2 separate regions of the Homo sapiens genome follow, and region 1 is linked to region 2. The links come from fine-mapping of genetic effects on gene expression. A gene starts in region 2. The other region holds a variant in brackets. All regions are shown on one strand. Distances are from middle to middle. Region 1 overlaps NUDCD1 (NudC domain containing 1). Region 2 holds the start of NUDCD1 (NudC domain containing 1).

The links.
Region 1: its variant is fine-mapped to the expression of NUDCD1 in skeletal muscle (GTEx, PIP 0.94).

What each region holds. Positions count from the first base shown.
Region 1 is chr8:109,233,672-109,250,321 of GRCh38, forward strand. NUDCD1 (NudC domain containing 1) reads right to left here. Exons shown (of 10, transcript NM_032869.4): 9 at 11,651-11,810; 10 at 7,248-9,630. The coding sequence ends at 9,338. Among named protein-coding and RNA genes, the nearest start is that of NUDCD1, 92 kb to the right of the region's middle. The variant T/C (reference allele first, on the strand shown) is at 9,052.
Region 2 is chr8:109,330,425-109,338,424 of GRCh38, forward strand. It overlaps NUDCD1 (NudC domain containing 1), which reads right to left and starts at 3,663. Exons shown (of 10, transcript NM_032869.4): 1 at 3,469-3,663. The coding sequence starts at 3,586. ENY2 (ENY2 transcription and export complex 2 subunit) reads left to right here and starts at 3,923. Exons shown (of 5, transcript NM_020189.6): 1 at 3,923-4,050; 2 at 5,704-5,780. The coding sequence starts at 4,045. RefSeq lists enhancers at 3,355-3,404, 3,535-3,584, 3,767-4,689, 3,955-4,204.

The DNA.
Region 1 (16,650 bases), 92 kb before region 2:
ATTGCACTCCAGCCTGGGCAACAAGAGTGAAACTCCGTCTCAAAAAAAAAAAAAAAAAGAAACATCAAAGATCACCAATCACTAGTCACTATAACATATAATACTAAAGTTTGAAATATCATGAGAATTACCAAAATATGAGAGACACAAAGTCAGTATATGCTATTGAAAAAATGGTGCCAAAGGACTTGCTTTATGCAAGGTTGCCATAAACCTTCAATTTGTAAAAAATGCAAAATCTGTGAAATGCAATACAAGGAGGAACTGCCTGTATTTTATTATTTTACTTTCTGATGTGTTTTATATAAGGAGCTTAAAACACTTTGAGCTCTCCTTTGACCATGTAACATTTTGCTTTTCCTGTTTACAAAATCTGAAGTCTTTTTTTCTCTTCAAGATGTATAAAATGTGCATACTGAAATCTAACAAAGCGATTCTTCAGCTAAAAAGAAATGTGTAATCAAGGAAGGAACACACACACACACACAAGGAGCCCAGGAGGTCTGAACTGCAGATTATTTTTGTTGTGCATAATTATGAATGTATATACATATATATGTGCATGTGTATATATACATATATACATCCATAATTATGCACAAGAATAATCTGAATACAGTTTCCTCTCACACATAGTGTAATATTGGTAATAAAGCCGACTAGGTAACTATGAGATCTGGCCCTTTTGATGCCCAATCTCCTCTTTCAAACTGCTTCCCCATACTCTGCTCTCTGCTCACATGTCAAGCATCTCTCATTATCTAAGACCTTCACCCACAGTAACAGGAGTATTAGTTTTTCACAGTCATTTTGCCATGTGACACTGATAACAAAGAATTTTCCATGCTAACAATTCTCTCTGCTAACACAAGTATAAACAGATATATTTTGCTCTTTATGTATTAAGGAGGTGATCTGAAAATATCAGCAGTCACATGCATTCTCATTACAGTATTTTCTGTTAGTGATGATATCTTAGATCTTTCCTGGTAGGTGTATGGCAGATGAGTGTCCGGGTTAAGGGAGGGGGAAAACTCTGTCAAGGCAGTAGCTGCCAGCGAGAAGTGGAGAGGAGAGAGGAAAAGGAGGGGGACAGATGAGAGTACAAAGGATGAAGGGGAGGAAGAGAGAGGGAGCAAAGAAGAGAAAGACAAAGAAAATTAGAAGTTCTAGATCATGAGAAACTCGAGTACATGAACATTCCTGCTAATGCTTTTCCCCTGTTCCAAGGCCCTAACAGGCCTCACATCCTTAAATATAATTTGTGATATTTCTCCTGGGCCCACTGCAAGGATTTTCAACTAGACTGTGGACATTTAAGCACTCGTAATTCTTATTATTGGATTAAGTTATTCATTATGGAACATTTATCATTTATGAATGATAAACTCAGAGGTGCTAATTTAAACTATAACATGTTCAGAAAAACTTTAAATATCAAAATGTACTCCAACGCTAAAACCCCTTAGATGGCACATGTCTCATAGGGGTCCTGAAGTCAGTAGATACATTTTTCTAGGATCACTGCAATTTTGGTGAATGCACTCCTAAACAAGATATGTAGAGTGTTTTCTGTGGTTTTCATAGACTGCATGTTAACAAGAACAAAAATGCTGACAGCTTAAAATCATTTCCTATAGACTCACATAGTCTTAGATGAAACGTAAATATCAGAAGAAAATAACAAAAATAAAAATCAAGAAAATGTTTTGTCCAAATAACTCCTCATAATATTATAGGAAAAGTATTTCCTCTGAGAGTTTTTGGCAAGAGAGGGTATCACCACTTTATCTGGTTTCCCTAATAAAATTGTAGGAATAATTTCCCTACCATAAAATTCAAATTTCTTTAAAAATATGTTGTTTCAACAAAGTTGAAGGCAAAAATACTAATACATTTTTAGAAATCCATTCATATTTAGCATGGAAGATGATCTCAGAATCTTTTTCTTAGCTCTTTTCTCATGCTGTTGTTGTTTCCATATGGCTTCATTGAAACAGAATCCACAAGCTACACAACTCACCTATTTAAAGTGTATAATTCAAGGGTTTTTAGTATAATCAGAGTTGTGCAGCCATCACCACAATCAATTTTTGTCACCCCCAAAATAAGCCCTATACCCATTAGCAGTTACTTTCCATTCCTTCCCCACTGTAGCCCATAAGCCTTTGGCAAGCACTAATCTACTTTGTCTCTATAGATGTGCTTTTTTTTTTTTTTTTTCTTAAAGACAGGGTCTCACTTTGATGCCCAGGCTGGAGTGCAGTGGTGCAATCATGGCTCACTTCAGCCTCGACCTCCTGGGCTCAGGTGATCCTCCGACCTCAGTCATGTGCCACCATACCTGGCTAATATTTGTTATTTTTGTGGTAGAAGTGGGGTTTTGCCATGCTGCCCAGGCTGGTCTCTAATGATCTGCCCTCCTCAGCCTCCCCAAGTGCTAGGATTATAGGCATGAGCCACCATGCCCAGCGAGATCTGCCTTTTCATATAAATGGAATCCTACCATCTGTAGCCTATTATGACTGGCTTCTTTCACTTAGCATAATGTTTTCAAGGTTTATCCATGTTGTAGCATCATTTATTGCTATACAATATTCCACTGTATGGATAAGCCACATTTTATTTATTCATTGGTCAGTTGATGGCTGTTTGGTTTGTTTATACTTTTTGGTTACTATAAACATGTGTGTACAGGTTTTTATTACTCTTGGATATATACCTAGGTGAGGAATTACTGGGTTATATGGTAACTGTTAACCTTTTGAAAAACTGCCAGACTCTTACAAAGCAGCTTTCCGTGCTGGCTGCAATCTCAGTTATTTCTCCTCACACCTGATTCCAGCTGGGTTCCTGAGGCACCACTAATGAACTTCCTATTATATCAACCTACGTAGGGGTATGCTTTATGCTTATATTGCCTTGTGCCTCCACTAAGATATCTTCATCCTTCTCTTTTTCCTCTAAGTAGGTGTATATTTGTAGATAAAGGAAAAACACTGAATGCTTATTTACTACTTAGTAAAAGACTTCAGAAGAATAGTTTTTTGAGAGTTCTTCATTTCATAAATTTCAGTGACTGTATTAATTTTGTAGGCCAAACTACATGTTCTTTGTGAAAAACATAGATGGCAGATATGAGAACAATATTTATCCTAATGTCAAGAATATGTTTAATCTTCTTCAATATTCACCTGATATCATTTTTTCCTGCACTATGAGATAGATTCATATTGGATATTTTGGCAAGCATTAAAAGTGAATCTCAAACACTTAAAAAAAAGTCAGTTGCAGAAGTGGAAAAAATTTAAATGGCTTAAAAATGTAATATGTTACAGATTTTTTTTTTCTCCTGTTTGGAGTAAAAAAATTGTAGACTGGGTGCATGGAAAATACTGAAGTCAGAAAATAGAGCTTCAGGATTGAAAGTACATTTACTTTTATCTTCCCTCCCTGGTACCACAGAAACTTCTTCCAAATTTATTTTCATTAATATACATTTTTGAGGAGTTGCTAAACTATTTTAAAGTGAAAAAAAATTCCCCCATTTAAAAAGCACTTGTAACTTATCTATTAAACCCCTATGTGGATTAAAATATCAGTAATTCTCATCCATAGATTCTGATGTAAAAATCTAGAATAAAGTCTCAATGTGCACAGTATAATCATACATTAAAAGAATTTTCCACCACAGAATCAGGCCTCTTCTGAGTACAAGTAACAGAAAATCTGACCTAAACTGACTTAGGGAAAAAGAAAACTTAATGACTCCCATTATCCAAAATTCTAAGAACAGCTGGTTTTAAGAATTGCTTGGTAGGACTAGATTATATTATCAAGGTTCATTTTCTCAGTCTCTTAGTGCCATCCTTTGTTGGCTCCCTATTTTGAGAAGTTCTCACCTTACTGTAGTGACAAATGGGGTTTTGTTTATATCCCTTTATTCTTACATCCAGTGGTAAGCCTTTGTCCCAGAAATCACTGCAAATTCTCACTGTGAATCACTGTTTCTAAATGGGTCAAGTGCCCATTTATGAACCAGTCACTGTGACCAGGGATTCTGCTTTCGCAAAGTACTGACTGGTTTAGCCTTAATAATGTTCTCTATACATGGTACCAAGGACAGAGTCAGTAACACACAAATATATTGGCTTAGAAAGAAATTATGGTATACTTCCAAAATAAGGGGAATGGGTATACTTCCAAGATAAAAGGGAAGGGATGCTGATCCCCATGATATAGGAAACATGCACTAAAATGCCATTGCAACACAAGAAAAAAAAAATTAAAAAGCAGAAATTAAATCAATAAGAAAATTTTGATAAGATTCAATACTTAATCTTTAAACAAATTTAAAAAGCATTATTGAGGCGTTGATGTGCAAAATGGAATGCTTAAGGTATACTTTTTAATAAAATTTAACTTGTGTATATATACACTCACGAACTACCACAATTAAGATAATGAAGATATCTCTTTACCTAAAATGTTTCTCTGCCCATTTATAATCTTTCAAATCCCTCCCGCTCAGGTAATCACTGATCTGTTTTCTATGTGTTTGCACTTTCTAGAACTTTGAGTTGAAGCATACAGTATGTACTCTGGCTTCTTTCACTCAGCATAATTACTTTGCAATTCATCTATGTTGGGTATATTGATACTTTTTATTGCTGAGTAATAATCCATTGCATGGACATAGCACAATGTATTTAGCCCTTCATCTGTAGATGGATATTTGACTTGTTCTGAGGTTTGATTATTATGAATGCTGTTGCTCTGTTCAAATCTTTGAATAGACATATACTTTCATTTTTCTTAGGTAAAAGAATGGGTAAGTGGAATAGCTGGGTCACATGGAAGATCCATGTTTAACATTTTAGAAAACCACTAAACTCTTTTCAAAGGCGATTCTACCATTTTACATTCCAAACAGCAGTGTTTGAGAGCTCCATTTGTTTCATACCTTTGCCAGCATCTGGAATGGTCAGTCTTCAATTAAAGGATTTCAATAGCTATGTAGTGATACCGCATTGTGCTTTCAATCTGCTCATTCCTAGTGACCAATAACGTTGAGTGCCTTTTCACATGCTTACTTGCCATTCATCTTGTATGATGTATCTGTTCAAAATTTTGGCCCAATAAAAAATTTACATATTTGATTATTTTATTATTGAGTTCTGAGGGTTCTTTATACATTCTGGACACTAGTGCTTTATTAAATAGTGATTTGTAAATGTTTTCTCCAAATCTGTGGCTTTTCATTGTCACAACACTGCCTAAGAACGTAATTTCTTAATTTTGATGAAGTATGATTTGTCACTTTTCTTGTTTGGTGTCATATGCAAGAAATCTTTGCCTAACCCAGCCTTACAAAATTTTTCCTTTATGTTATCTGCTAGAAGTTGCACAGTTTCAGGTTTTACATTTAGGTCCATGATCCATTTTAAGTAAATTCTGATATAAGGCTGTGTTAGTTTCCTATGGCCGCTGTAATGAATTTACCACAAATTCGGTGGTAATGCATTCTGTCACAGATCTGAGGCCAGAAGACCAAAATCAAGGTGTCAGCAGGGCCATTCCCCCTCCAGAGGCTCTGAGGGAGAATCTATTCCTTGCTTCTTCCAGCTTCTGGTGGCTGCCAGCATGCTCTAGCACTCCTCGGCTTGTGGCCTTTTAAACACCATCTTCACATAAGCTTCTCCTCTTTGTGTTTGTAATTGCACTCTGCCTCTCTCTTGTAAGGGACACTGCAATTAGATTTAGGGTCCACCCCAGATAATCCAGGATAATTTTTCCATGTAAAGATCCTCATTGTAATCACTTCTGCAAAGACTCTTTATCTTCATAAGGTTATATTTTCATGTTCCAGGGATTGGAACCTGATATCTTCAGGTGGCCACTATTTAGGCTACTACAAAGGCAAAAATGAATACCCAATTGTTTTTGCGCCACTTGTTAAAAATATATCTTTTCTCCATCAAATTATCTCTGCATTTTGAATTGCCTCTTCATTGAAATATCTCTGACTAAAATCAACTGACCATATGTGTCTGAGTCTCCATCTGGACTCTTTATTCTGATCTATGGATCTATTTGTTGAAATTGGTGCCAATACCACATTTTCTTGATTACTGTAGCTTTACTGACCATCTTTATTTTCTTTTCTGTGAATTAACTGTTCATATCTTTTGTCTGCTTTCCTTTTGTATAACTTGTTTGCTTTTTTATTAAATGATAGTTCTTATGTTCTAGATTTTAACATTCATACATTACGCATAAGTCACATATCTTTCCTCAGTCTGTTGCTTTATCTTATACCAAAAGTAGGTCATAAAGAAATTTTACATTTTGTAATGATCAAATTCATCAATCCTTTCGCTTATATTTTTGCCTTCTGGATCTTAAGAAGCCTTCTCAACCTTGAGAATATAGATATTTTCTTCTTGTAAGTATAGGACGATTAAATGTGTGTCTATTTTGTTTACTAATGCAATGATGCTACTCTTTTTACTGCTTCATGATGTATCTTGATATCTAGTTGGGTACCTTTTACCTTGGCTCTTTTTGTGCATTTATTCTTTCTTACCAATTCTAGAAGGCCTTACTTCTCTTTGCTTTATTACTTCTATACTTCCATCATTGGGCTTTTGTTTTTTACCACTCAACTATTATTACTTGTTCAGTAAGACACACTTACTACTAAGAAGTAATTAGAATATTCTTCCAGTAATAATCAGTGATAAGTATCAGTTTTGCCTTCTTATATGACTTGCCACACATAAACTTACCATCTGTTCTTTTCTATAGTTAATAACACAAAATATTAGAAATTCCTGTGTAATGATGGTTTAACTTGTTCTGTACAGTCATTTCCCTTTTATGTAGAAATTTGATGAGTATACTTTATTTAAGAGTATTTTTTTTAACATTGTTAACCATTCCTAATTTCTTGACACTCTGATTCTTTTTTCTAACTCTTCCCATTGGCAACTCCTCTACCTGACTCTTGTGGGTAGTCCCCAAGGTTCTAGCCCTGGTCAGACTTCCTTAGCAGGAAAGCAACCACTCTATGCCACCCTCTCCTCTTTTTTTCCCTAAAAAGAAATTTTATCTGAAAATCATTAAAATGTAGATTGTCTCTTTATCCTTAGTAATATATTATCCTTAATACTGAAAAAATCATGCTAAGGTACATAGTTGATGCTTAAATGTGTTAAAAGAGTGAATATTGTTAATGACTCTTAATATGCAAAACACATAAAATACTACTTTATTACTATCATAAATATTTTATAAATTCCTATTTAAAACATGATAAAAATCAACAAAAATACAAGGTACTATATTCTTAGCACTTGTAGTATATATCTCAATGTTCTAAGTATATGTACCTTAGAACATTGTTTAAATGTTTATGGAATCCCTGAAGCATTTCAGGAAAATAGCTTGAAATCACGGCTCTAGACCTATTCATCTTTTAACGTAGGTCAACATGCGACAATATTTAGGATTAATTATCCTGAGAGCTTTCAATTCAACATTAATCATGCAAAAAAATCACATGCACAAAGAATATTGATTACTAAAATTGGCAATATATACATAGTCATGGTTAATTAAGCACCACATTTTTATTATACATTTTTCTTATGTTCCCTAAGAGGATATTATCTTTGGGGAAAATTTTAGAGAAAATTTAGATCTACTTTCCCATCATAAAGATTTTTAATAATTCACTATTTAAATGGTCTTTTGTTTCATGAAGTTTTACAACAATACTAAAAAGTTCTGGAAATATCACTGTTTTGGTTTTTGGTTACTATACAGTTTTCCATCTCTATGATCTCGTGATGTTTGGTATCTAGTCTCTCTTTCCTAATACGAATAGAGTACTATTAGGACTCCAATTGTCAATACCAGTCCTCAGGACCTTTCCTAACTTTCTACCTAGCACCTCAATACTCTCTAGGAAACTGCAATCTGACAAAGGGTTTAGAACATGTATGCAATCCTCATCTTTTTTCCTCCTCTCTGTCATTCATTCGTTCATTAAAATTTAGTTGAGTCAAATACTTGCCCAGACAGGCAAAAGATATGTTAGGAACAAAGCTTTTCTATCTTATATTTCTTATCTTAATCTTCTGCCTCTTAAATGAAGGTCTTAACTTCCTTATTAAAATATAAAATCCAACTTGAGGTTTATATAAGATACATATCTTGAAATGGTATAAAAAGTAATAAAAATTTCCAGGTACATACATACTAAAACAAACCTGGAAAGGTAAGTTTGAAAAAACAAAATTTGTGGCAAGAAACTATAACATATAAACAGGATTATTTTGTTGAAGTTGTTAGAAAAATAAAGAGAGCCACAAGGATAAATTATAATTTGTCCTTGTGTGGTAAGATTGTTCCATCAATGGCCCCCAATGAGTCATACCATCCGCTGTCAGCTTGTGTAGTCCCCTCATTCTGACTCTAGACTTGGCCATGTGATTTGCTTTGTCCAATGGAACATTAGTAAATATGATAGATGTACAGGATCGATAAGCTCTTGCATATTGGAGCTTGCTCTCTTAAGATGTTTTCTCTACTATGGAAAGAAGATTCGTCTAGTCTACTGGAGGCTGAGAGGCCCTGTACAGCAGAGACAGCCAACTCACTGAATCGTGAAAAATAATAAAAGTCCTTGTTTTAAACCACTGAGTTTTGGTGTGGTTTGTTATGCAGTGATGGATAATGTGAAATCTTATCTCTCTTTGTCTATGTCTGTGGCAGAGCAACTGGCTAAAAGTTACATAAAGCTATACTTAATTTGAAAATAATAATAAAGGTCTCTCAGTAAACTTAAAAAATATTAGACCTGCTGTTCTCTAGCATTTCCTCCTCCATGTAGACTCAGTTATTCAATCCACTTAAATACATATGTACAATACTCAACATTTAACTATTATCCTGTACATCTTATAGGTACAGCCTGTAGCAACTAATCAACGAACAGAGTACACAATAAATATTTTTATTTTTAAACACTGAATTGTACATCTTTCA[T/C]ATAAAACATGAGATTCTAGCCTGTTTTAAAAAATAAGTATACTTGCTAGTACTATCTTCACTCTTTTTTTTTTTCAGAAGCCAATGTTCTCTAAATCTGCAGCTTCATTCCACAGCTTTACAGAATCATAATCTCTTGAATATATTTCCAATGTTATTAAAAAATAAAAAATCATACAAGATATATTTAGCACATTAAAACTTAAGAGGTTACAGTATAACTGTCCAGACCTCCAGGTACCACTGAATACTTTTCCAGTACAAAGAGGCCAATATGTTAGAATAATTAATTCTCTGTATTTACTTTTATTAAAAAGAGGTTTTTGGTAGTAAGAACAAATAATCTCTCATTTGTTGCCTGAAATCCTAAAATAGGATCATTGGTTTCTAGGCTTGCTACTTGCTGCTTAGCAACCTGTCCTACTTGCCTGCCTTCCTTTCTGTTGTAAAGTACAGTGGACATGGGAGCAGGCTGACGATAGATGAATACTCGACGAAGGCACTCACAAAGGGCTGCATACGAGTAATTTGGAGCACAGGCAAAAAATTTTTTGTCTCTCTTTGATGCTTGGACATAGCCTGCCAAGAATATGAGACAAACAAAAGAAAAACTATATATTAAACAGAAGGGGAAAAATGATGATTTAACATTTAATATTTTGCAATGTTTATTACAAATTAAAATGCCCAAGTAAAATATATACCATAAGGTATATAATTCTGAATCATTAACGATTAGCCACAATCAGTCTCTCCCATCTGGTACAAAAATACGACTTTAATTCCTAAGGAACAAAACAGATATGGCTTTCTCGCTTCAAAAAAAGCGTAATATAGCTTCATTTAATTTCCACGAATAATTCGAACACTAAAATTCTAAAATCTAAAACACTCAATACATGACAAAATATCTTTAAGTGCCAATTTAATATTTAGCTTCGTGAGTTACGGATAGGGCATCACAGAACCATTTTTTTCCTCTTAAATAAATTGGAAAATGTGTATAGGATACCATCATAAAGTTATTTTAGTTTTCTGTTCATAATGTATCCCTGAATGTACTAGTATTCGTGATGCATTCTCTTATTATCCCTAAAATGTTAGTGATATTTTTATACATCAATACCAACACTGTAACTGGATTTTTTTGTACTTTTAGCCCCCACAAGTAGAATGTTGATCACTATAACTTCAAAAATAATTTCAAGTCTCTAAACTGAAAAAAATCCTTATCTTAATTCATGTACATGTTTAAAAAGTATCTTTTTGGATTAAAACAACATTTATATTCCAAAATATAAATTATGATTTTTAGATAGTGACATGGTTAGCAAATGTTAGGTATTTATGATCATGTAAAATAAGAATATAACATTAATTAAAATTGAGATCTCATCAAACAATGAATAAGCAAAGGAACTACTGAGCACATGCAGATCAATACTGTTTTTAAAAATATTAAGCAGGTTTGAAGCAGGAAAAGTGAAGATTTAGATACCTATTTAAATAGTTTAAAGTAGCTATCCAGGCTAACCTTGACAGAATAATGTATATAATATTTCAAGAGTACATATCTAATATATGTTGATTTAACTTAGAATTAAGCATAGAATTCCCCTATAATAGGGGATTTGGGGATACAAATAGAACATCTGAGCATCTAAAGATGATATGATAGAGCTTTCTTCTGACCAAAGTATAGATAATTAAAAAATAGCATTATAGTAGGGAGGCTAAAAATTATATGGTTAAATTAGTTAACCAAACTTTGTACTTCAGGTCATAAAAATCCATTTGGAGTCTGAACCAGTTTAGCAGCCTACATTATTAACTATAAGGGATAATTAATAAATTTCTTCTACAATTAGGGTTGTGCACATATAGCCATCAAAATACGTAACTTCACTTCTTGCTGCCTGTTTAAAATAACCTTTCAATAAAGCAACAACTGTGGCTAATTCACATAAAAAATTTCTGTCACACAATACTAATGCATTTTGACAGAAAATCAATGATTGCATACGTCTATAATTAAGTAGTTTAAACATTGTCAAGCCCTAATTTTAAAACTGATTTTTTTCCTTTTATCCTACCAAATAAATTTAATTTCTGCTTATCACCGCTTTCCATAAGTATTTTCATTATAATGGCTCTCTTTTGTACTTAATTTTGACAAAAGATGTCTCCTAATGTGCATTACACCTTAGGGGAATTCTATGATGTTTCTGAAGATTACTCTGAAGAAACTTGAACACCAGTTCCATGTAGGGTATTATCAAGCTCCTTGCTCAGACTCCAGTATTATATGGCTTACAGAATTAGAAAAAGCAAATGACTTATTAGAATAATTCAAGTGGTTAGATAACCACTTTCATTTCTATTCTGTGTTGATCTTCTGTACAAGCATAAAAACAGATTAGTCTAAATGTTCCAACAGTGCTAACACTCACAACTAGTACAAGCAAACAAATCATAGCGCAAATCAATCTAAATGTAATCAGGACAGCTCAAATTAAAAAGAAAAAAAAGAAATGAACTTTAAATGAATGATGACTGTATTTCTGATTTCATGGAAAATGTCAAAGAGTTTGCTTTATACCTAAAGCATTGAAAGTTGCGATGTGCTCCCACATATCATCTTGTTTGCTGGAGTGTGGTTGCCAGAGTAGGGCATCAACATCATGGCGCAAACAGAAGCAGGGCATTTCTTTAGGATCCACTATGACAGAGAAAAGGTACTGGTTGCTTCCAAGATTCACCTAAAAAGTGATTTAAAAAAAAATTTACTCAACAACAAATTAATAATAGCAACAATAACAATGGCAGAAGCTGACAGCCAGCATTAAGTGTCAGCAACTGTTTTATACTTTTTATATACTTAATCTGATTGACTCCTCATAATATCCCTGAGATAAATGTGCTACTGTTATGTTCATTTCAAAGCTGAGGAAAGTGATGCACAAGGCATTTAGGTAACTTGTCGATGGTCAGCCTGGCCATAAGTCATGGAGCTGAAATTTGGACCCAGAGTCTATGTTCTTAATCACCACGTGATATACCACCTCTTAATTGTTAGTAAATAGTTTAAAACACGATATAAAGCAGGGGTCCCCAGTCACTGAGCCGCAGACTGGTACCAGTCAGTGGCCTTTTAGGAACTGGGCCGCACAGCAAGAGATGAGCAGCAGGCAAGGGAGCATTACTGCCTGAGCTCCACCTCCTGTCAGATCAGCAGTGGAATTAGATTCTCACAGGAGGGTGAACACTATTGTGAAATGCACATGCAAGGGATCTAGGCTGTCTGCCTTATGAGAATCTAACTAATACCTGATGATCTGAGGTGGAACAGTTTCATCCTGAAACCATCCACCAAGCCCCCACAGGCCCATGGAAAAACTGTCTTCCACAAAACTGGTCCCTGGTGCCAAAAAGGTTGGGGACTGCTGATATAAAGCACCAATTTTATAAGCAGACTATTTTTAGGCCATAGAATACACACATGAAGTTTACTAATGCTAACTTGTAATAATTACCAAGAACAATGACACTACCAGAATTTATGAGCACACTCTCATAACATTTATAACCAGGCATGTTATAAATACTAATCTTAACAACTCGCAAGGCTATTATTATCTTCATTTAAGGGATGAAAGAACAGGCTTGGAGAGTTTGAGTAACTTGTTCTAGGCTAAAGAGAAATATCACAATGCTGGAATTCACACTCAGATGTTTAAAACTATTTACTTAAACGTACTGCTTAATTAAAGTATCAATGTCAATATGTCAATAATGTCAACATTTGTTATTGTAACACATCAATAATTGTTACTGCAATATTGATGCCTAAAGAAATGCATTTTAATACAAAATCATCAAATTGAAACTCACTGAATTTCATCTACAGCAATACTTTTTCTAAATGAAGACATGTTGTAAGGATAGTCTTCTTTATGAGAAATGTTATTATCAGAGTTGAAAATACGAAACAGAATACCAACAAAAATCACATCAAATGTAGAAAATATAAAATATGCACAGTACTTATAAATATGTAATTGATTCTAGGAGTTTGCAAGCAGACTGGAGAACCGTAAAAGATTGGGTTAAAGTAAGAAGTGGAGACCTGACCTGAATTCAACAGGGAAAGCTGTGAAGTGGCTCTCCAGCAAGGGGACCTATTATTGGTAAAGCTGTGACAACACAGGCTATTGGTCACAGGAGAATACAGTGTCAGAGCAACCCATCTTCTGCTCCCCAGCAATGCCAGGGAAATAGGGCTTTTTCGTAGAGCCAGTGCTTGCTCTCTACAAAATAAGGGGAGAAGGCCAGCACACAGAGACCACAGACTATTTCTTTTCTCTCCTTACTCCCGATGATCAGTGGCTAGATGAGGTTTATTTTCAAAGTCACCACTACCTAACTGGCCTTTTATTATTATGTTTGACAGACCTAACACTGCTTCAGCTCTCTTCCCTGTACTCCAACTCTGATACTCTATTTTTTTTAACCAAGGGCTTTCACAGAAGAAAAATAAACAACAGCTAAAATAAAATACAAGTTGAAACAATATTTTCACAACAATACATCTACTTTCATGAGCCAAGTGCCTAAAGAATGTATTGAATATTATGAGGATTAATATAATTGAATGATCTCTGGTCCATCCATACTTGAAGAGACAGCAGTGAGAAAAGAATAGAGGACCTTGAACCACGAAGTGAAAGGTGACCACCAAGGGAGATCAATCATGAAAATAAGAGGATAAGAATGAAGGTAGGTGCCTTATTATGAGCCCCTCACTCTGACTTAGATGTTTCTTCACTTCAGCAGCCACTTACCTTACGCATATTTCCATTATGGCGACTGTGTCAAGTGTTGTTAATTGTGAAACTAGCAATTTCATACAGCTTGTCTTTGCCATACCTTTGACATAGCATTCTGTTTGGACTCCTTGTATTTTTTTTACCTGATAGATTCCCACTTATCCTCTAAGACTCAATTCAACCATCAGTTGCTCTCAGAATTCCCCCACTCTCGTGGTTATATGAGCTGCTTGAATTCTGAGAACTCCAGCATCATGTATGTTATTCCTATCAAATTATTTATCATATTATATTAGATTATTAATATTTTTACATACCACCTGTGGCAGGATGAATAACGTCCCCCAAAGATGTCCACATCTAAATCCCTTGGAACCTGTGAATAAGTTACCTTATATAGCAAAAGGGACTTTGTAGATGTGGTTAAGTTTAAGGTCCTGGGATGGAGAGATTATCCTGGAATATGTGGGTAGACTCAATGTATTAAGAAGTATTCTTAGGGAGGGAGGAGGGCCACAGACACAGAAGGTGAGATAACAACAAAATCAAGGGGATAGACAGAGTTTAGAAGATGATATACTGCTGGCTTTGAAGACACAGGATGGGCCCGGCCACAAGCCAAGTAATGGAGGCAGCCTCTAGAAGTTAGAAATGGCAAGGAAATGGATTCTCCCCTAGAGCCTCCAGAATGAATGTAGTCCCTACAAACCACTTTAGGACTTCTGACCTCCCAAATTGTAAGAGAATAAGTCTGTGTTGTTTTCAACCACTACACCTGCAGCAATTCGTTGCAGTAATAACAGCAACCTAACATACCACCCATCTCACAACACTAATTCTTCTTAGGAACTAGAAGTCTGCCCTTTTTTCTCCAAATTGTAAAGAAATTTTTTTAAATGAATGTTATGTAAAAAGTGATTATTTCTGTAATATCTTCACCAAGGCTAATCTATCTTTAGATTTGGGAATTATCTATTTTACAGTTAGAATAATTGGCTGAAGATTCTGTAAGGCAAAAATCTCATAATTAGGTTCTTAACCTAACAAGAGGGTGACTAGGGTCAAGAGCTTCTAGACTTAGTACATAGTTCTCTGTGCCTTTTAGTTCTCACTTCCAGAAATGTTAGTTTCTCAGTAATTTCCCTCTATAGCTTTCCACTGTTTGGAAAAAAAAAAAAAAAAAAGGTCCACATTGCCTTAAATGGCATTTTGAAAGCTTTTCGAAACCTGACCCCAGCATACTTTTCAATATTCACTATTACTTTCCTTAAAATATAACATTTAGCAAAACTGGATCACAATTTGCAAAACTGTCTCCCCTATTTCCCCATTCCTTTATTCATGCTTTTTTTTAACCTGTTGCATATCCTGTCCATTATACACTCTATGCCATATGCAAATGGCATCTTCTCCTCCAAGGAAGTTTTCCCTAATTCTAATAAAAAGAAATTGTGTATTGCAACTAATTATTTATACTTTTCCTATAGAGTTTGTCTCTTCATTTCACTTATATGCTCTTTGAGGGTGATAGCTATGACTTTGGGTAGGATATTTAAACCATTTTATTCCCCTTATAAATATGGTAACTACTACTCACTTCACAATTGTTATGATGAGTAAACAATATATTTCAAAGCTTAGAAAGAACTTAATAAGTGTTCATGTTGATTATTACCTGTCTAGGAAAGCCCTTAATAAGTATTAATGTTAATTATTACCCTTCCAGCATTCTTAAAACATTTTGTTTTGTATATTAATGGCATTTCAAATTTTAAGAATGAGATGAGTAACACTGACAGAAAAGCATAGCAGCTTTCAAGTAATCTTCCCGTAGCTCACAGCTACAGCTCTTATACAATTTTATGTCTCAGAAATGTGTAAATAGCTATAAAAATAACATACACTTATTCTGTCTTAATCCCAGCATATTTGAGACAAATTTCTATACTCTTGTACCATTTCAAAAATGAGAAATACAGAATTCATTGTTCTACTTGTCATTTTGTCATATAAATTCTATTTTTATCAGTGGTTACAAATGTATGCTTATTGCTTTCAATTTTATATATTCCTGTAATGCATATATTCCTCAGTAAATGGATCTGCCCCTGAAAAGGGACAAAGTCATGTTTCAAATAAGATTTGGATTTTTAACATATACTCAAAACCAAGTACCTTAAAGTTTAAAATCCAAAGTAAACAAACTAGTCAATTTTTTGATGGCAGTAACTACATATAATTTACGGAGAGACATAAGAATCCCATTAAAAAATGAGATATATAAAGAATTGTTGAATTCTTTTTTTTTTTTTTTTGAGATGGGGTCTCACTCTGTCACCCAGGCTGGTGTCCAGTGGCACATTCATGGCTCACAGCAGCCTTGACCTCCTGGGCTCAAGCAATCCTCCAACCCCAGCCTCCTGAGTAGCTGGGACGACAAGCACACACTGCCATGCCTGGGGAATTTTTTTATTTTTTGTAGAGATGAGGGGTCTCACTATGTTGCCCAGGCTGGTCTTGAACTCAACTCAAGCAATCCTCCTGCCTCAGCCTCCCAAAGTGCTAGGATTACAGGTGTGAGCCACTGGTGCCTGGCAAGAATTGTTGAATTCTTTACTTCTTTCTGTATGTAGTAAGAGACTATGTGATACTCATTTTACTTATTAAATAAATTCTAGCTTCCCTATTTTTTACTTCAAAACTAAGTATTTCATACAGCTAAATAAAATAAAGATTTTGCCACTGCCAGATGTTTGCTACTTCTTAGGTTGGC
Region 2 (8,000 bases):
ATAAAAGAAATCAAATTACCAGAAGCGCCTCAATTATGCTTCACTATCTCTAGAAATGATAGTTTTTAAACAAAATAATCTTTTTCATCATCCTCAAGTAATTCCTAATGAAAAACTCATCATGTGAACTATTGCAAAAGCCTCCTATCTGCTGTGTGCAGTCATCTCATCTTCCAAACTCAACCTCCACAGAGTCTGAGGTAAGCTTTTCAACTCCCGTATCTGTTCACGTCCCTTGTACTTAAAATGTGGTACACATACGCCATGGAATACTATGCAGCCATAAAAAGGAACACAATCATATCCTTCAAAGGGACATGGAAGGAGCTGGAAGCCACTGTCCTCAACAAACCAACGAAGGAACAGAACACAAAACACCACATGTTCTCACTTGTAAGTGGGAGCTGAATAATGAGATCACATGGACACAGGGAGGGGAACAACACACACTGTGGTCTGTCAGAGAATGGGGTAGGGGGAGGGAGAGCATTAGGAAAAATTGCTAATGCATGCTGGGCTTAATACCTAGGTGATGGGTTGACGGGTGCAGCAAACCACCATGGCACACGTTTACCTATGTACCAAACCTGCACATCCTGCACATGTACCCCGGAACTTCAAAGAAAAAAAAAAATCGGTCGGAGCAGTGGCTCAGGCCTGTTAATCCCAGCACTTTGGGAGGCCGAGGCAGGTGGATCGCGAGGTCAGGAGTTCAAGACCAGCTTGGCCAAGATAGTAAAACTCCGTCTCTAATACAAAAATTAGCTGGGCTTGGTGGCGGGCACTTGTAATCCCAGCTACTCCAGAGGCTGGGGCAGAGAACTGCTTGAACCCGGGAGGCGGAAGTTGCAGTGAGCTGAGATCGCGCCACTGCACTCCAGCCTCAACGACAGAGACTCCGTCTCAAAAAACAAAACAAAAACAAAAAGAAACAAACAAAAATTAGCTGGGCATGGTGGCGGGCGCCTGTAATCCCAACTACTCGGGAGGCTGAGGCAGGAGAATCGCCTGAACCCGGAAGGCAGAGGTTGCAATGAGACGAGATCACACTACTACAGTCCAGCCTCCGCAATAGAGCAAGACTCAGACTCAAAAAAAAAAAAAAAAAAAAAAATCTTCAAATGGCACCTGATATCCTGCAGCTGTACATCCCAAACACAGAATCTAAGATTAACGCTGATGAAATGAGTACGGAACAAGGACAACTTTGTGAATTTTTTCTAAAGTTAAAGTATTCAATGGATTGTTTATTGTGAGATTTTGCTTCCTGCTTTTTTGGTGTTAAAATATCCTTTTGTTTATGAAAAGATAGATGAGTAAATGATAGTTTTTAAGAAACATCTCCACCTAGTAAACAGAAAAGTTGGCAGAACTACAGCAGCTGAGTTTTATTTTATATTGTAATGGCTCAATACAAAAATGTCAGGGAAACACTGAATGACCGGAAATCCAAGAAATCCAAAAGGCAAACAAGGCCCTCACTGATTTATTTCCTCTCACTTTCCCAGACGTTTTGCTCCAGCAATATAAGAGTGCAAGGATGTCCAGCATACAACCTACTAATTATTTCCCTTTCCTCATGCTTTCCCATGAATGGAATGACCTCAACAATTTCTTCTCTTCTTCATATACTCATTTTATTGAATACATCCTATGTGCCAAGCACTAGATATAGGGTAGTGAACAAAAGAAAAACATCACTGTTTTCAAGGAACTCATAGTCTAGTGGAGGAAACAGACAACAAATCAAGATAGAATTTAAAAGGCCGATAAGTACGTCTTATGGAGAATGCAATGACGAAGCCCAAAAGTGAAGGCAGGAAGGCTAGTCAGGAGGCTACTAGAGTTCAGGTAAGAGATAACTCTGATTTGGATTAGGGTGGAGGCCTAGAGATATCAAAATGTGGAGCTGACCGGACTTGCTACCAAGCAGACAGTGGCTAAAAGAAATAAACCCCAAATGACTCTGGCACAAGTGTCTCTTGGTACCAACCTGGGCTAGTCTAGTCGGCTAAAGGATAAGAGACCACACGGAGAAAAGTCAAGAGGAGACCATGTGAAAGAATCTTAAACAAGCTTATAGTCTGAGACCCTACCCCCACCCTCCAAACATATGAGGAAGTCCAGCCAAATGAGCAGAGCTTCCCAGCAGATCCATTACTGAACAAGGATGCATCAATGAGCCCAACTAGGACTAGAAGAACCACTCAGCTGACCCGTAGACTTGTGAGCAATAATAACTGCTTCTTGTTTTGAGACACTGAATTTTGGCTTCACTTTCTAATGCACTAACTAAACATGGTGATACCATCTACTGACATGGGGTGACTGGAAGAAACACGGTGGCAAAGAGGAAAAGGAAAAAAATAAAAAGAAAAATCAAGCTTATCCTCTCTCATCCTAGTCAACTCTTAACCTACCCTTCAAAGCTCAACTTAGATATTAACTCCTCCAAGACGCCTTCCCAGATCCCCAGACTAGTTTAGGAAAGATATTCAAGTACTACCATTGTATTTTGTACATATCCCTATCACTGCCTTCCCATATTGTTTTACAATTATCTGTTTACAATTTTCTTCCTAACTAGCTAATAGTCCTCTTTTGTTACGGAAGGTGTCTTGTTCATTTTGATATTATCAGGACGTAACACAAAACAGGTACTCGGTAAATATTTCTGAATTTAATAAATCAATTAGCATAAACTTATTTTATACTTTAATGTCTGTTATTATAATTAACTGTAGATCACTATTTCTCAAAGTGTGATCTCTGAAAACATGCATCAGAATCAGCAGGGGTGTGAATTTTAAAATGCAGATCTCTGGGCTCTATCATAACGAAAATGCCGTTAAGTTGTAAAAACAAGAGTAAGGATATTCTACCAGCTACAGATAAAGCAAGGAGTAGCAGTGTGGGAGTAAATCCACTTTTCCTCACTATCTTCTAGAGATGTTCTCTACCAGAGTTCTTAATGTGCCAGGAACTGAGTAATTAAAAATGCTATGACTGGAATGTAGTTTCTCTTCTAAGAAACGGCTCTCGGTCAGAGGAAACAGGAACTGGGGGTCCTCCAAGGAGGTGTGGTTTCTCAACGCACACGTTCACAAGCGATGCTCCAGGAGGAAGGAATGTTCTCAGCGTCCCCCGAAACAGAAGCCAGGCTGTGGACACACAGCAGCCAGAGCCCCAGGCACTACCCGCACGCCAGCCCTCAGACCTCAGACCTCAGAGGCTGGGCTGCTGACGGAGGGGGCCCAGGGTCCCGTTACCGAAGAGCGCGCGAAGGCGGCTCCCACCGGGTTCTGGGATGGGCATCATTCCCCAGAAGCAGCGGCCTCCGTGAGTCCACGCAAGCCGCCACGGTGGCTTCGCTTGCCAGTCAGAAAGAAAGAAATTGCGGGAAGGGTCAGGCCGGAGGCAGCCGAAAGGGGAAAGGAACGGAGTACGAAGGGCGCCGCCGCTTCCCACCTGCGTCAAGCTCCAGCTGGTAACAAGGCAGCGGCTCAAGAGAGAGCTTGTAACCCTCGAAGCGGGGATCCAACAGAGGTCTCTTCACCCGTAGGGAGCAATTAGCCGCCACCTCCATCGCTTTCCAGGGCCGCAGCGTGAGAATTAATAAAGCCCTTGTTGAAAGGTCCGCGCTTCACGCCTCGCACAGAGACTGGGAAGCGGCGTGGTTCCCATCCCAGAAAACACTGCGGTGCGAACTGCCTTCTGGGAAATGTAGTGTCCGTGAAAAAGTTGAGACTGTTGCATGCTGGGCTATGTAGTTCTCCTGGTACTTAACGCGCGCGCGACGGCAAGGTCTGAACTCTGTTACCCAGAGGCCCTAGCAACCAGGAGGCGGCCCGCGCTGGTTAAATTCTCACATTATAGGCAGGGTGGCGAGACCCCGCCCCGGAAATGCGTGTTCTAGCTTTCTGTGTGCTTAGGTGCCCGAGCTACTGAGGGTCTAAGTCCGGGCAGCCGAAGAGTGTGGTAGGTAACGGTCCTCAGCGCAAGGGTCATTTCGTCGCTGGGAAGGGACGGCCCTCGCCCGCGGTGATGGTGGTGAGCTATGCCCGTGGTCCTCAGGGCCGGGACCCGGGCCCAGCCCAGGCTCCTTTCGATGTACTGTCTTTCGTTAGCGTCCCCGACCCGCGCTCGCGGGCCTGTAGGGCTCTCCGACAGGGCGTGCTACCGGAGTTGGCCTGAAACCAGTCCTCGCTTTGTTTTCTGGCTCCTCCTCTCCCGCCTCTCCCGCTGTCTCCGCCCTGTTCTATTTTCCCTAAGAATGTCTGAACTGGGAGGGATACCCTAGCGCCCTTGTTTTACCAGTGAGAAAACTGAGGCCTTTAAGAATTAAGTGACTTGTCCAAGGTCACTATCCGTATTTTAGGAGCCAAGACGAGATCAAGTTCAATATTCCAGGAGTGGTACTGACTAGACCTTGTAGTTATTTTGAAAATGTTAGCCTCCAATTACAAAAGCAAGCATTTCCTAGTTCTCACTCAACTTCTCCTTTTCCCTGTTCCTCTCAAAAAAGAAAAAAAAAATCAACTCTGGTAACTCATTGCCAGTCTGAATTTTCAATAGGCCAGATGGAAGACAACAAAAGTAATCTCAAGTTAGTGACAGATTAGGTGGGAAAACGTTAGTTTACGCCAAGTTTTATTTAATTTAAACTTTTAAGTGGCTTTAACGCTTTCAAAACCTAACTTTCCTCTTCTTTCAACATCATTTTGGTTTGGGTTGTCTGTTTTTACTGACAATTGAGGACTTTGTAAGTTAGGAATTAGTTTGAGATTTGTTTTCTTCTTATCCCACCAGCAGTGTGTGTGTAAACACACACATCCACACACTTAGGTTTAGCAGTTGTAATTGTGGGTTCATCCTAGTGAAGAGTAAAGCAAAACACTTAGAGCCTTATCTAGTAATTTTATTTTTTTTGATTAATTAATTTTTTTTTTTTTTTTTGAGACAGAGTCTTGCCCTGTCACCCAGGCTGGAGTGCAGCAGCGCAATGTCGGCTCACTGCAACCTCTGTCTCCTGGGTTCAAGCGATTCTCCTGCCTCAGCCTCCTGAGTAGCTGGGATTACAGACACCTGCCACCAAGCCCAGCTTATTTTTCTATTTTTAGTAGAGACGGGGTTTCACCATCTTGGTCAGGCTGGTCTTGAACTCCTGACCTCGTGATCCACCTGCCTGGGCCTCCCAAAGTGCTGGGATTACAGGTGTGACCCACTGTGCCCGGCCTGGTAATTTTATTTTTTTACTAATAGTATTTAATCTTTTTTTGATGTTTAGTATGTATGACTTCTCCCAATTTTTGGATGCAGTCTCTGCAGAAGTGATCGGCAGTTATGTTCAGTTTTGGAGCTCCTAGGGTCAAAGTACTTGAGTTCAAATTTTGCCTTTCCACTTTCTATCTCTGTGCCTCAGTTTCCTCATCAGTAAAATACAGATTATTTTATTAATATAAATATGTAACAATACGTTCTGGGAATTAAATGTGATGTTTAAAAAAAAGCAAACCCACACTGCATTAGCCCAGTGCCAAGCACATAAGTGTTTAATAAAGAGTAATGATATTATTAACACACTTGAAATGTATCACCCCTTCAGTTAATAGAATGGTAAACATGTTAGGATGCCTGCCTAGAGGATTTAGCAGAAAATGCTTTGTAAATGTTCTATATCTGAAAGTACATGTTGATGTCCAGGTTAGCAAGATGAACAAAGATGCGCAGATGAGAGCAGCGATTAACCAAAAGTTGATAGAAACTGGAGAAAGAGAACGGTAAGTAATAGATTGTGTTAATAAATTACATTTCACCGCCTTTAATAGTTAGCTTGTAAGAATCTAAACAAGAAATGAAACATGTCACTGGAAAGAATTACAATTGAGATTATAAAAGTTTCTATTCCGAACATCTGGAAAAAATAATTTAGGTTTGTTAAGTATTGCAGGACTTGGAGGGAAGTGGTGATGTAGAAAGATGAGCAAGATATGGCTCTTAAAGAGTAATTTGATGGAGAAGAAAAAGTACATACCTGAATTACAACTGGAGACATAATGTTACCTGGGTTTTAACAGGGAGACAATGTTGTGGAACCAGCTTCATTTACCAAGCTCTCAACCTTGGAGCAGCAAGTGCTGTTTCCACTCTCTAAAACATTCTTCCTTCTCTTCCTTTTTAGCTAATTCTAGCTCAACTATCAGGTCTAATTTATATATTGTCTCTTCAAGGAATGTTTTTAAGTCCCAAATACCTTGTTCCATCATAGCATTTAATCAACATTGTGTTCTAACAATCTACTTGGCTAGTTTGTATCCTCCAGTATAATCTAAGTTCTTTAACACCAAAAACAACATTGTATACCCAGCATCTAATGCTTTGTTTGGTTCATAATTGGCCACGTAAATATTTGCAGAATCAACAGGTTTAGAAGTACAAAGAAGGGGCTGAGGAATCAAGAAAGGCTCCCAGAGGCAGGGTTATAAAGTGAGTAAGACAAATATGTATAAGGAAGAGGCAAATATGTATAAGGAAGAGGGGGAATCTTTCAACTCAACCCGGGCATTCAGGTGATCATGTAAGATCTCACACAATAAGAAAAAGAGGTGCATCTGTTGCTGACTTTATTTTTGGATGATGGGAGTCATTTAAAGTTTTAAGAAAGGAAATGACTAGATCACATTTACACTTTAGGAATCTTACTCTGTTGGTGTGGAGCTTGGACTTGAAGGGGACAAGATAGATGGCAGAAAAATGAGGTAGAAGATTATATAGGGTTGAAAATGGAAAACTCCAAAAATTGGAAGGAGACCTTAGAATTTTAATAAAATGTAGAAACAGCAACCCTCAAAATGAGGAAGGAGGCATCGATAACTGCCTTGGGTAGCTTTAGAGGATAGTACTGCTGGTAAGGAGTACGGATTGTATGTTGTTTTTTTTTTTTGTTGTTTGTTTTTGATTCATGCAGCTTCAAGTTACTGAGTTTCTATCATATGCCATGCCCTGTTAAGGTGTTGGAGGTAACAGTAGTAGACAAAAATGGAGACTTTGTTTTCACAGAGCTTGCATTCTAATGGGAGGAGACAGATAAAACTGTGTAATAATGTCAGATGGTGATGAGCACTAGAGGAACAATAAAGCAGAAAATAAAGAGGTGTAATATTTTAGATAGAAAAAACAAAGAAGAAATCAGAAGGAGGCCGTGCATAGTGGCTCACGCCTGTAATCCCAGCACTTTGGGAGGCTGAGGCTGGCAGATCACAAGGTCAGGAGATTGAGACTATCCTGGCTAACATGGTGAAACCCCATCTCTACTGAAAATACAAAAATTAGCCATGCATGGTGATGGGCTGTAGTCCCAGCTACTCAGGAGGCTGAGGCAGGTGAATCGCTTGAACTCGGGAGGCGGAGGTTGCGGTGAGCTGAGATCGCGCCACTTCACTCCAGCCTGGGTGATAAGAGTGAAACTCCGTCTCAAAAAAAAAAAAATCAGAAGGATATGAGGGTGAGCAGGGACTCTTTAAGTTCCTGAGATAGGAGCTTGCCTTTCATTTTTGAGGAGCACAGGGATGCTAGGGAGACTGAGTAAATTGGGTGAGGGAGAGTGGAGATTAAGTCAGTGGCATAGCTGGGGAGAAGGCAGATCATGAAGGATCATGTAGGCTGTAATAAAGTCTTGGAGTTTTATTCTGAGTAAATTGGGAAGGCACTGGAGGTTTTTGAGCAGCAGGAGAAGAACTAAGTGTACAAGGGAAGAAGCAGGGAGACAACCTAGAATGCTATGGTAATATTCTAGAGAAGAGATGATGGCTTGAACTAGAGTAGTAATGGCGGAGATAGTGAGAAAGGTGAATTCTAGGTATATGTTTTAAATTGAACCCAATAGGATTTGCTCATAAATTGGATGTGTAGTGTTAACAAGGCAGCTGAGTGGAAGGATACTACAGAGATTCCTAGTCTGAGGAACCAGAAGAATGGAATTGCCATTCTCAGAAGAAGAA